Homo sapiens: one gene and its partners. The protein of the gene in region 2 purifies or fractionates together with the protein of the main gene of each other region. This does not show direct contact. Each region holds a gene or a part of one and is shown on either strand. Other genes may lie near its edges. The genes, in order: ARHGAP18, PREX2 and NT5C2.

Region 1 (3,655 bases), on a different chromosome or scaffold from region 2:
GTTATGAGAACAGCCTAATCAAGAACAGCTGTTTTATATAAATAAATTTTAAGGGCACAAATGTATAACAATTATTCTTTTCTCAAATACTTAGCTATAATGATACATTGGTACTTTTACCTGCAAGTATTGAGATAACCTAAAGTCAATTTGCTCTTTGAGGAACAGGTGCAAATAACTTTTCCTTGCTCTACACTAGATGATTTTCCATCTTATTAAGAGTAACAAACACTCTGCAACTTTATAGCTACCCAAACTGAAGCATTAAAGGTATTCAAAACAGTCACCTGGGCCTAACAAGAGTTCAATACCTTTAAACACTTTTTTAGGGTACTTTTTGGATATTAAATGTAGTATTGAAATAATGTGAGCTATTTATATAACTTATCCCACTATTAGTTTTAAAATAAAGGCATTATACTGCATATGCATTAGAAGCAAACATTCATTTCCCAAATGACTTACAAATTAATCACAACAATGCTTTCCTATACTATTTCCAAATTAATTCACCAACAGGTAACAGTCTGACTGCCCTTTATCATCATCGAAAACACGTACTTTATGTCAAGCACTCATGTAAGTATGTTACATATGTTGACTCAGTCAATCCTTAAAATAAGTCTTGAGTTAGGTATTATTATTCCCAGTGTGCAGAAGGAAACAAAAAAATTGAGGCCCTGAAACATTAAATAGCCCAGAGTCACAAGCTGCTACATGAAAGAAGCAGGACTTCAACCCAGGCAATCTAGCTCCAAAATCTGTGTATGCAATCACTACGCCTCCTCCCACTTACACTCATTCATTCATTCAATCTTTTAGTAACTACCTAAAGTGAACTAAGCACTTTGCCAAGGCTTAGGTATAAAGGAACACCCCTCCCTTAAAAAAAAAAAAAAGACAGGCAAAGTTCTCACCCTCAATGAACTTACATCTGAGTATATAATAAAAAAGTAAAATTCAAATTAAACTCAAAAGTTTACTATGACAACTCTGGTTAAGTGAAATGAAGTGAAATGTCTGGGGAAATTTTAAGATACTGTACAGAAAAGGATTTAGTAATAATGTTCATCTGCATAATTTTTTAACATTCTCAAACGTTACACATTTGATCTTCATGATTAACTTTGCGAAGCAGGAAGGGCATCATTACACGATATGATTTCATAAATGAGGAAACAGATAAATGTGTCATGTCCTAAATATCTTAGCAAAGATGCCACATCCTTTGTCCAGGAATCTCACTACCCACAGACCCTGCTTTTCTAAAAAGATCCAGAACAAGCCAGATCATAAGCTGCCTGGGGTTGTACTATGGCCTGTTCAAAAAGATTAACTGGAAAAATCTGATGTCCTTTCAAAAATGTGAAATTAAGGCCGGGCGCGGTGGCTCACGCCTATAATCCCCACACTTTGGGAGGCTGAGGTGGGCAGATCGTGAGGTCAGGAGTTCGAGAACAGCCTGACTAACATGGTGAAACCCCATCTCTACTAAAAATACAAAAATTAGCCAGGCGTAGTGGCAGGTGCCTGTAATCTCAGCTACTCAGGAGGCTGAGGCAGGAGAATCACTTGAACCTGGGAGGTGGAGGTTGCAGTGGGCTGAGATCATGCCACTGCACTCCAGCCTGGGTGACAGAGCGAGATTCCATCTCAAATAAAAAAAAACAAAAAACAAAAAACTGAAATTAGGAAATAAAGAGATGGGTCAGTTAGCTATGAAATGTAAGATGACTCAGGAGGTAACCAGGCTGGGCATCCATCAGGAGCCAAAAGCTCAAGCTGAAATGATGAGATTAGAAAGCCAGTGGGTAGAAAAGAATTGAGAGTCTCCAAGAGAACAGAAATGCCATGAGTGTCCCCATATGACCAGCTGCTGAGGGAAGAAGAGATGCCTCCTTTCCCTATGACCCAGATCCCTGTAACAAACCTCATTTCCCATAAGGAAACCTCAGTGTTCTTTGCAGCCAAAAGGCAACTACCAAATGCATATGAAAAGGAGATGAGGTTTCATACTCTCTTTCAACACAGAAATTCAGATACTTAGTGGACTTAAGTATGGAAAAAAACTACAGGTAGTAACTGGTCACACGGGTCTCCATGGTTTCTGTTTATTTCTTGCAAAAAAAAGGATAAACTTGGCCAGCTCACAGCAACAAACATGGAAGTCAAAAGAATGTGCCTTCAGAAAGATCTAGACATCCCTTCCGTTCCTCCTGCCCTAATCCATGCCCAATACCCTGACTCATCCCCACTCTCCTCAAATAATGAGAGTTCTTATTCTCTATCCCTTTTTTATCGAAAGAAAATAGAAAAGCCCATTAAATATCAACTGAATAAAACATTTAGAACAAACCATCTCTCTCAAAATATTCGTATGAAATGAAAGGGTGGGCACAGGACAGAGGGCACCTACAGCAGGGTTCAGGAGAGGATTGTTGTCATACCTGGTCTAGCAACCCCAAACCTACAGAGTGATCCATGCTGTTAGTGACTCCCACTGAGACCCACAGCCTACAGGCCTCATCACAGTGACACCACTAGGATGATGACAGAGCTTTCTCAGGGCTCTTGGACAGAACAGAATCAAGAAGAGGCAGGAGGGCCAGGCACAGTGGCTCACGCCTGTAATCCCAGCACTTTGGGAGGCCTAGGCGGGTGGATCACCTGAGGTCAGGAGTTCGAGACCAGCCTGGCCAACATGGCAAAACCCCGTCTCTACTGAAAACACAAAAATTAGACGGGTGTGGTGGCGCACGCCTGTAATCCCAGCTACTGGGGAAGCTAAGGCAGGAGAATTGCTTCAACCCAGGAGACAGAAATTGCAGTGAGCCGAGATTGCGCCATGCACTGCAGCCTGGTGACAGAGCGAGACTCCATCTCCAAAACAAAAAAAAAAAGAAGAAGAAAAAGAGGCAGGAGAAAGAAGACAGCCACAGGGCATGGACCTCACAGATTCATGAGCAAGGAGTAGAGGGAACTATCCCTGTGGCCAGGGACAGCCTTGGCCTCTAGGGTGCTGGGTTCTTTTTCTAATTTGTGAGACAGATGTTTACAGCCAGTGGGGAATTAAAACAGAAGAGTGAAACAGATAATTTGTTCTGGCAATGAGTCCAATTATCAAAAACGAGTTAAGCCTAACACCCATGCAGTCCAGTAGCAATCATGTGCATCATTAAATGCATCAATTGTTACGAGTCTTTATTGCTTCAACACTTGTAGAAGTATGATAAATAATAACAGAACTCAAAATATTAGAAAATTCATAAAATATGAAAGCAAGCCCCACTTAGAAGAGACAAGGCAGCACAGTGCAATCGTACAATGCAGAAGTAATAAATGTGCCGTGGACAACAAAGCAAATGTTCAACAAGTTTCTCTAGGAAGGTGTGGGTGGGGATGGTTCTGATAATCTCTAAATCCTTATATTCGAAAGGCATAAACTTAATTAAAAGTTCTATGAAGATAATATAACTTTAATAGGCCCACAAAAATCACAGGTCTCGTCAATGAGAGGAATCAAAAGGCAAATATCACATGTCTGTGAATGAACCTAAGACTTCCCCAGTTGGACACCGGGTGCAACCTCTAATAATTCAAGAAGAAACTATGGATAGGGTTTTTAAACCACAGTGAAGAAAATGCCTTTACAAAG
Region 2 (3,655 bases):
CTCATATTAGAAAAGGGAAGGATTTGAAATATTACATTGTCCCACTATGCTTTGTCTGAGGTCGGTAGTAACAGGTGATTATTGTGAAAGACCAATTAAAAGAAAAACAATCAAAAACTTTTTTCAAGATCTTTGTGGAAAATCCAGCATCATATTTGACTTTGTTAAGAAAATGAGTTTGAGGAATTAGTGAATTACCTGTAAGAGTCTCTGTTGCTGATGGTGTCATGACCAGAATCTTCCTGTTCATCTCCTGCTACATTAAAACATACCCGTTTGCTGTTTCTTTCTCCCTTCTCATTGTCACTGTCTGTTGGTATTATGCCCTCTGATGTCTTACGTTCTAATTTAGGAGAATATGTTATTGAAGACAGAAGGCTGCAATGTAATATTAAAAAAAAATGCACATTTTCAAACTGTCTGCTATATATAACTACCTTATTTGCTGAATACAATAGGCTTACAAATATTTCTAGAGTGCTTCAATGTTTCATATCAAGTAAATATTCTATTGCATAAAAAGCATGTCATTCAAAGTTCTCTTGTTCTTCACAAAATAAGTCATACAAACAACATACAATTTAGACCAGAAAGCTTCATTGAAATACAGGTTGTGCCATGTATGACTATAGCTAAAACAAAGCTGTGATAGTTTTGTTTGACACTTGTGAAATGGAGATAATGAGAATAACTGGCTTCCATGACTGCTGTGAGAATGAATATTCCTGGTGCATAATGGGTGTCACCTCTAGCCCCTGGCCATTAGCACAACCATCACCACCTTATGAAAATACTCGGTAATCAGCCGGGTGTTGTGGCTCATGCCTGTAATCCCAGCACTTTGGGAGGCCAAGGCAGGCGGATCACCTAAGGTCGGAAGTTCGAGACCAGCCTGACCAACTTGGAGAAACCCCGTCTCTACTAAAAAATACAAAATTAGCCGGGCGTGGTGGCGCATGCTTGTAATCCCAACTACTCAGGAGGCTAAGGCAGGAGAATTGCTTGAACCCAGGAGGCGGAGGTTGTGGTGAGCCGAGATCGTGCCATTGTACTCCAGCCTGGGCAACAAGAGCGAAACTCCAACTCAAAAAAAAAAAAAAAAAAAAAAAGAAAGAAAAGAAAAGAAAGAAAAGAAAAACAGAAAATACTCAGTAATCTTTAAAGTGCTAGCCAAATATTAAACCCAAACTATAAATGGGCCTTCATGTCCTCACTGGCTCATATTCAGTATTAAAAACCCACCTACCCTCTATCTATGCCTTGGGTTTTGCCCAGGCATTCCCTATTTGGCAGGGAGAATATTGGATTGTCTATCCGTCTCCCTGCTCGTACAAACAGGAGTCTTGGCCTTGGGGATTACAAGACACTAAACAGAGTTACATACAATGTGAGGATGGGGTAAATCTGCAAGCCAGCCAGGATGAAATGTCCCAAATCTGCCCACAGAAAGAGCTCCTCCACCTGGCTCCAGGCTAAAATGCCGCAGTCAGACTGAACTGTGTGAAACCTGCTGAGGACTTTGAGTAGCTGCTGACTCCAACACTCTAGGCTTGAACATTTGGCTGTGGCATGTTTCTGTTACAACTAACTCAAAATTAGGCAAAAATGGAATTGAACTTTATTATCAAAGAGCATGCTAAAAAACTTGCAAAATGAATTAAACCATGTATAAACAAAGGACCCATATAGGGCTTCTCAAGCCAGCAGCCATCTTCGCATTTACTAAATACCTGTGATTTTCAGTTCCAATCAGTAGCACATATCTTGATTCTCATTTTTCCATAGCAATGTAATGTTTGTTATTTCAAGACGGTGACGATATCTTATACCTCTTACGCATATTCCATAATGTCAAACCCAATGCTGTGCATTGAATAAATACCTATTAAGTGATTTCACTAAACACATTTATTATACCATGCACTGTTCTTGGTGCTGTGGATATAGTAGTTTATAAAACACACAAAAGGGCCGGGCGCGGTGGCTCATGCCTGTAATCCCAGCGCTTTGGGAGGCCGAGGTGGGTGGATCACGTGAGGTCAGGAGTTCGAGACCAGCCTGGCCAACATGGTGAAATCCCGTCTCTACTAAAAATACAAAAATTAGCTGGGTGTGGTGGTGGAAGCCTGTAGTCCCAGCTACTCAGGAGACTGAGGCAGGAGAATCGCTTGAACCCTGGAGATGGAGGTTGCAGTGAGCATAGATCACACCACTGCACTCCAGCCTGGGCAACAGAGTGAGACTGTCTCAAAAACCAACCAAACAAGCAACAACAACAACAAAAACAAAATACAAAAGCCCCTGCCTTCTTGGAGCTCAAATTCTACTGAGAGAAGACAAGTAAAAACAAGTAAACTTTCTAGTATATCAAATGGCAGCAAATGGTAAGGAGAAAAAGAAAGCAGGGAAGGAAGCGTGAAGCTGCCACTTCAAACAGTGGTGCAGTCAGGTCAGGTCTCACAGCGAGGTGAGATTTGAACAATATTTTGACATTTTATAGGTTTTAGACACCAGTGAAAAATTGAAGGAGCTATGTTACATTGCTTGAGGCCCTGTGAACATTTTTAATAACCAAAAGCTATGGATGATTTTAAACACAGTTTTTCTCTTTGGAAAGATACTTTTATGTCCTGTAAGACAGATTGTCTATTTATTCACCCTCTCCACCCAAAAGATTAAAACATTAGACTAACTCCAATTATCCAAGCTCCATGCTGCACAGACAGATGAACTCTGAATACCAAAGAGGGAAAAAATGCAGGAGTTCTCATTTTGCCAAGAGGCCTCTGTGCTTATGTATCTTTTAAATTAGAAGTCATGGGGCTAAGCATAATTTTTTTCAAAGTTATATGAATTGTATTCAGATATTTGCTTTTTATTTAAAACAGCTGCAATCATGCTTGCATTGACCCCGTGGGACAAGTGTTAGGCTTACAAACAAATGATAGAAAAACTGTATTTTTAACACCATGTTTTGCATAAAATTTCTAGATTCTGAAAAGCAACAAGGCATCAAACCATAATATTTGTGCTTGCAGAAATCCCTTCACTTTCATTGGTATAAAATATTAAGTTACCTACTAGAGGTCCATTAATTAAAACCTTCAGCAGCATGCAATTCCAGGTGAATCTTCTCCTTGTGCCATTGATAAGAAAGATTTTTGTATACAGTATGTTGCAATGACCTGTGTGTTTTTAAACATCATCATCATTGCTAACATCTGTTCAGCTTTCATGACAGTCACGATGCTAAGTCCTTAACAGGTATGAATTCATTTAATCTCTAAAACCACCTTATGAAGTAGGTATTATTATTTTCCCCATTTTAGAGGTGGGGTAGGCAAGACATATTGTTACATACATATCCTGTGCAAATTAAGCAGGATTTCCTCTCCCTGCATCTAACTTGCACACTCTGGAGGGAGTAGGGTGCATCCCGGTGTTTCATAACTCAACTCACAGAAGTACTGTGAGAATGAAATAAGCCAATGTATATAATAATGTAATCTTGCCTGGCAAATAAGCATCTATAAAAAAGTTGGCTTTTATGGTGTGCCCCTCTTGTTGTACATTTAGTAGCAAAATGCTTGGGGAAACCTCAGTGATTACTCTACCACCACCACCACCACCACCACCATTCCTATCTGTAACCCCC
Region 3 (3,655 bases), on a different chromosome or scaffold from region 2:
ATATATATATATATATATATATATATATCACACACTCCTTCCCTCCCCTCTTTCCTGAAATTATTAGCTTTTTTTTTTTTTTTTTAACAATCTATCCCTCCTTCTTGGAATTACTAGTTTTAAACTGTTCTTTAATAACTCTAATGAATTTTGAAAAATTCCTGCCCCAAATCCCTCTCAATATTGCCTCTGCATCATTCTTCCTTTCTTTTCTTCTACTGCAAAAATAATTAAACAAATGCTTTTTTTTTTTTTTTTTTTTAAAGACGAAGTCTCTTTCGCTCTGTCTTCCAGGCTGGAGTACAGTGGCACCATCTCAGCTCACTGCAAGCTCTGCCTCCTGGGTTCACGCCATATATATATATATACATATACATACACACATACACACACACATATATATATACTTTAAGTGGGGGTGGGAGGAGGGTGAGGGATGAGAAATTACCTGATGAGTACAATGTACACTATTCAGGTGATGGTTACACTAAAAAGCCAGACCACTGCTATGCTATATATCCAAAACTGTACCCCCTAAATCTATAAAAATTAAAAAATAAAATAGTTTAAGATGAAGAAATGCCTATTTTTCCAGAAGGCTCCTTGAAACTGTTGCATTTAAATTATCTTAAATGTTTCATTACCTCTCATCTTTTAAATAGTTCATGATAAGTTTTTGGTTTTTTTTTTTTTTAGTTTTTTTGAGACAGAGTTTCACTCTTGTTGCCCAGGCTGGAGTGCAATGACGCGATCTCGGCTCAATGCAACCTCCGCCTCCCAGATTCAAGCGATTCTCCTGCGTCAGCCTCCCAAGTAGCTGGGATTACAGGCATGAGCCACCACGCCCGGCTAATTTTGTATTTTTAGTACAGACGGGGTTTCACCGTGTTGGTTAGGCTGGTCTCGAATTCCTGACCTCAAGTGATCCACCTGCCTCCCAAAGTGCTGGAATTACAGGAATGTGCCACCGTGCCCAGCCTATAAACAAGTTTTTTTGTTTATTTTTCATTTCATTATTTTCATTCAGAGTTCTTTATGTCACTTGTCCCAAACTGCACTACACATTCCTGTCAAAGGCCAACACTCAATAGTTCACACACCAAAGTGATGCCAACAGTTAACAAACTCCAACTAATAACATCACACTTACCCACACACATCACTCACTGTCCTCTTACCCTGCTTTACTTGTTTTTTGCACATAACCCTTACATTTGACAGTTTGCATTCTGTCAATCTCTCCAAAATATAAGCTCCATAAGGGAGAGGAGTGTTTTATTTGCTGCTGTATCCCCAGCATCTCGCACAGTAGACTTAACAGACAGAAATAAATGAACCATTAAACGTCTACACATGGAGCCCTTTGCTTTTCAGAAGCCTATTTTTGTGTAAGCCTGAAAATGCAAGAATAACTGCAGAAGTCCCTTTTAATACTCTAAATGAATCTTTGTGAAATCTTATTCTTGGTTCACAAATACATAAGATTCTTGGCTTGATTAACATAATATTTTGCTAACATTTCAACATCAGGCCTCGGAACAAAAGCTTCCTTGTTCTCCGAAGGAAAAATAACAAAGTTGAGAAGAGAGAACTTGTCGAGTGAGAAATGCAGTACCTGTTGCCTTGACAATTTGTTTTTCTTCTTCAAGCAGCTACATGCTCCTATCTGTAGTCTGAAATTGTAACTAGAAACTACAAATTTATTTCATCTGTTCCTAAACTTTTGAAAATATACAAAAAAGACTAATTTTGCTATGTTCTCATCAACATTCTATTGCTACTATCCTGCCATATCACATAGAATGCTATATATTTGTTCTACATCAACACATTAAGGCTGCTTCTAACTGAATGTTTTGAATAATACCGGACCTTCAACAATAACATGGTTATTGACACAAAGGAACAAGAGAGCATGTAAGGAAAACATTTTAAAAGACTGAGCTATTTCTTCAAAACGTTGCCATAATTAACTGAGGTCTTCAAAAGCATAAAGGTATAAACCAGCTGTACAATTTTTACATTCAGACGATATATAATACTTTGCACCTTTAGTAATGACTCCTGAATACTCCTTTAAAAAAAAAAAATACATAGGGCAAGGTGCAGTGGCTCACACCTATAATCCCACCACTCTGGGAGGCCAAGCCAGGCGGATCCCTTGAGCCTAGGAGTTCGAGACCAGCCTAAGCAACATGGCAAAACCCCCATCTCTATAAAAACATGCAAAAATTAGACAGGCATGGTGACGGGTGCCTGTAGACCCAGCTACTCGGGAGGCTGAGGTAGGAAGATTGCTTGAGCCGGGAAGGCAGAGATTGCGTGAGCCAAGATCGCACCACTGCACACTCCAGCCTGGACAACAGACAAAGACCCTGTCTCCAAAAAAAAAAAAAAGGAAAAAAAAAAAAAAGCAGGTAAAAAACTGCTTTATTTCAGGAAAGAACTCATTCTCTTACCAATGAACTCCTGCTCACCATTCAACTTTGGTTTAGCTCTTATTTTTCCTGTTACAAAATAATTTAAAAAGATAAAATCGGAAAGGCATAAATAACCACAGACCACAGTATTTCTACCTTTTAATATATAAATTCATACTTAAGGTTTAGTCCACCTATTTGGTTAAAATTCAGAGATATGCATGAGTTCGATGCCTTAATAATGCTAACATAATAACAGCTGACATTTATTGAGTACTTACTATTTTTCATGTATGATTCTAAGCAGCATAGTACATATTTTAACTCACTGACTTTTCAGAACAACCCTATATGTTAGGTACTATTATCCTCATTTTACGAAGAAGTAAACAGGAAAGAGAAGTTAGATAATTTGAAGTCACAGAATTATACTGTGGTTAAGAGTACGGATTCTGGAGCCACACTGCCTGCGTTCAAAACCTGGCTCTAACACCAACTAGCTCTACGACTAAGCAAATTATAAGCACTACAGTTTCTTCCATTGCAAAACAGGTAGAGTTGGAACAAGGATGTAAGGTGCTAAGAACAGTGGCTGAGACATGGAAATTGGTCAATATAAACTGTTTATAATGCTTGAGTGCAAGATGTTTGAATACTTGAAGCCTTAGCACAATACAGTACTTGATGTTTGCAGGAATGAGTAATAGGCTTCTACTTTTGGAGTCAAAACCTCATAGCGTCCATTACGTATCAGAGGCTGTAACAATTTCACACATTTATCACGTCAATTAAAGTATCCTAAATATAAGGACAACTATAGCTATAGGTTTGTTTCCTTTCTTCCTGGAAGCTCTCAGACCTAGAGAGAATTAATTCAAGATTTATTTCACCAAACCTACTTCAAAAGTAAACGAGTAATTCAAGGCTTAAAAAAATGGCATTTACTGGCTGGGTGCGGTGGCTCATGCCTGTAATCCCAGCACTTTGGGAGGCCGAGGCGGGCGGATCACAAGGTACAGAGATCGAGACCATCCTGGCTAACACAGTGAAACCCCGTCTCTACTAAAAATACAAAAAAATAGCCAGGCGTGGTGGCACATGCCTGTAATCCCAGCACTAGGGAGGCTGAGGCAGAGGAACAGCTTGAACCCGGGAGATGGAGGCTGCAGTGAGCTGACATGGAGCCACTGCACTCCAGCCTGGGTGACAGAGCAAGACTCCGTCTCAAAAAAAAA

Evidence for each region.
Region 1: the proteins of PREX2 (region 2) and ARHGAP18 purify together in Homo sapiens (affinity purification with mass spectrometry; one large-scale study listed by BioGRID and IntAct). This does not show direct contact.
Region 3: the proteins of PREX2 (region 2) and NT5C2 purify together in Homo sapiens (affinity purification with mass spectrometry; one large-scale study listed by BioGRID and IntAct). This does not show direct contact.

Annotation. Positions count from the first base shown.
Region 1 is NC_000006.12:129,700,115-129,703,769, forward strand, and holds part of ARHGAP18 (rho GTPase-activating protein 18), read right to left. Parts: intron 1-3,655. UniProt on the Homo sapiens protein: Rho GTPase activating protein that suppresses F-actin polymerization by inhibiting Rho. Rho GTPase activating proteins act by converting Rho-type GTPases to an inactive GDP-bound state.
Region 2 is NC_000008.11:68,112,476-68,116,130, reverse strand, and holds part of PREX2 (phosphatidylinositol 3,4,5-trisphosphate-dependent Rac exchanger 2 protein), read right to left. Parts: intron 379-3,655; coding exon 199-378; intron 1-198. UniProt on the Homo sapiens protein: Functions as a RAC1 guanine nucleotide exchange factor (GEF), activating Rac proteins by exchanging bound GDP for free GTP.
Region 3 is NC_000010.11:103,183,267-103,186,921, forward strand, and holds part of NT5C2 (cytosolic purine 5'-nucleotidase), read right to left. Parts: intron 1-3,655. UniProt on the Homo sapiens protein: Broad specificity cytosolic 5'-nucleotidase that catalyzes the dephosphorylation of 6-hydroxypurine nucleoside 5'-monophosphates.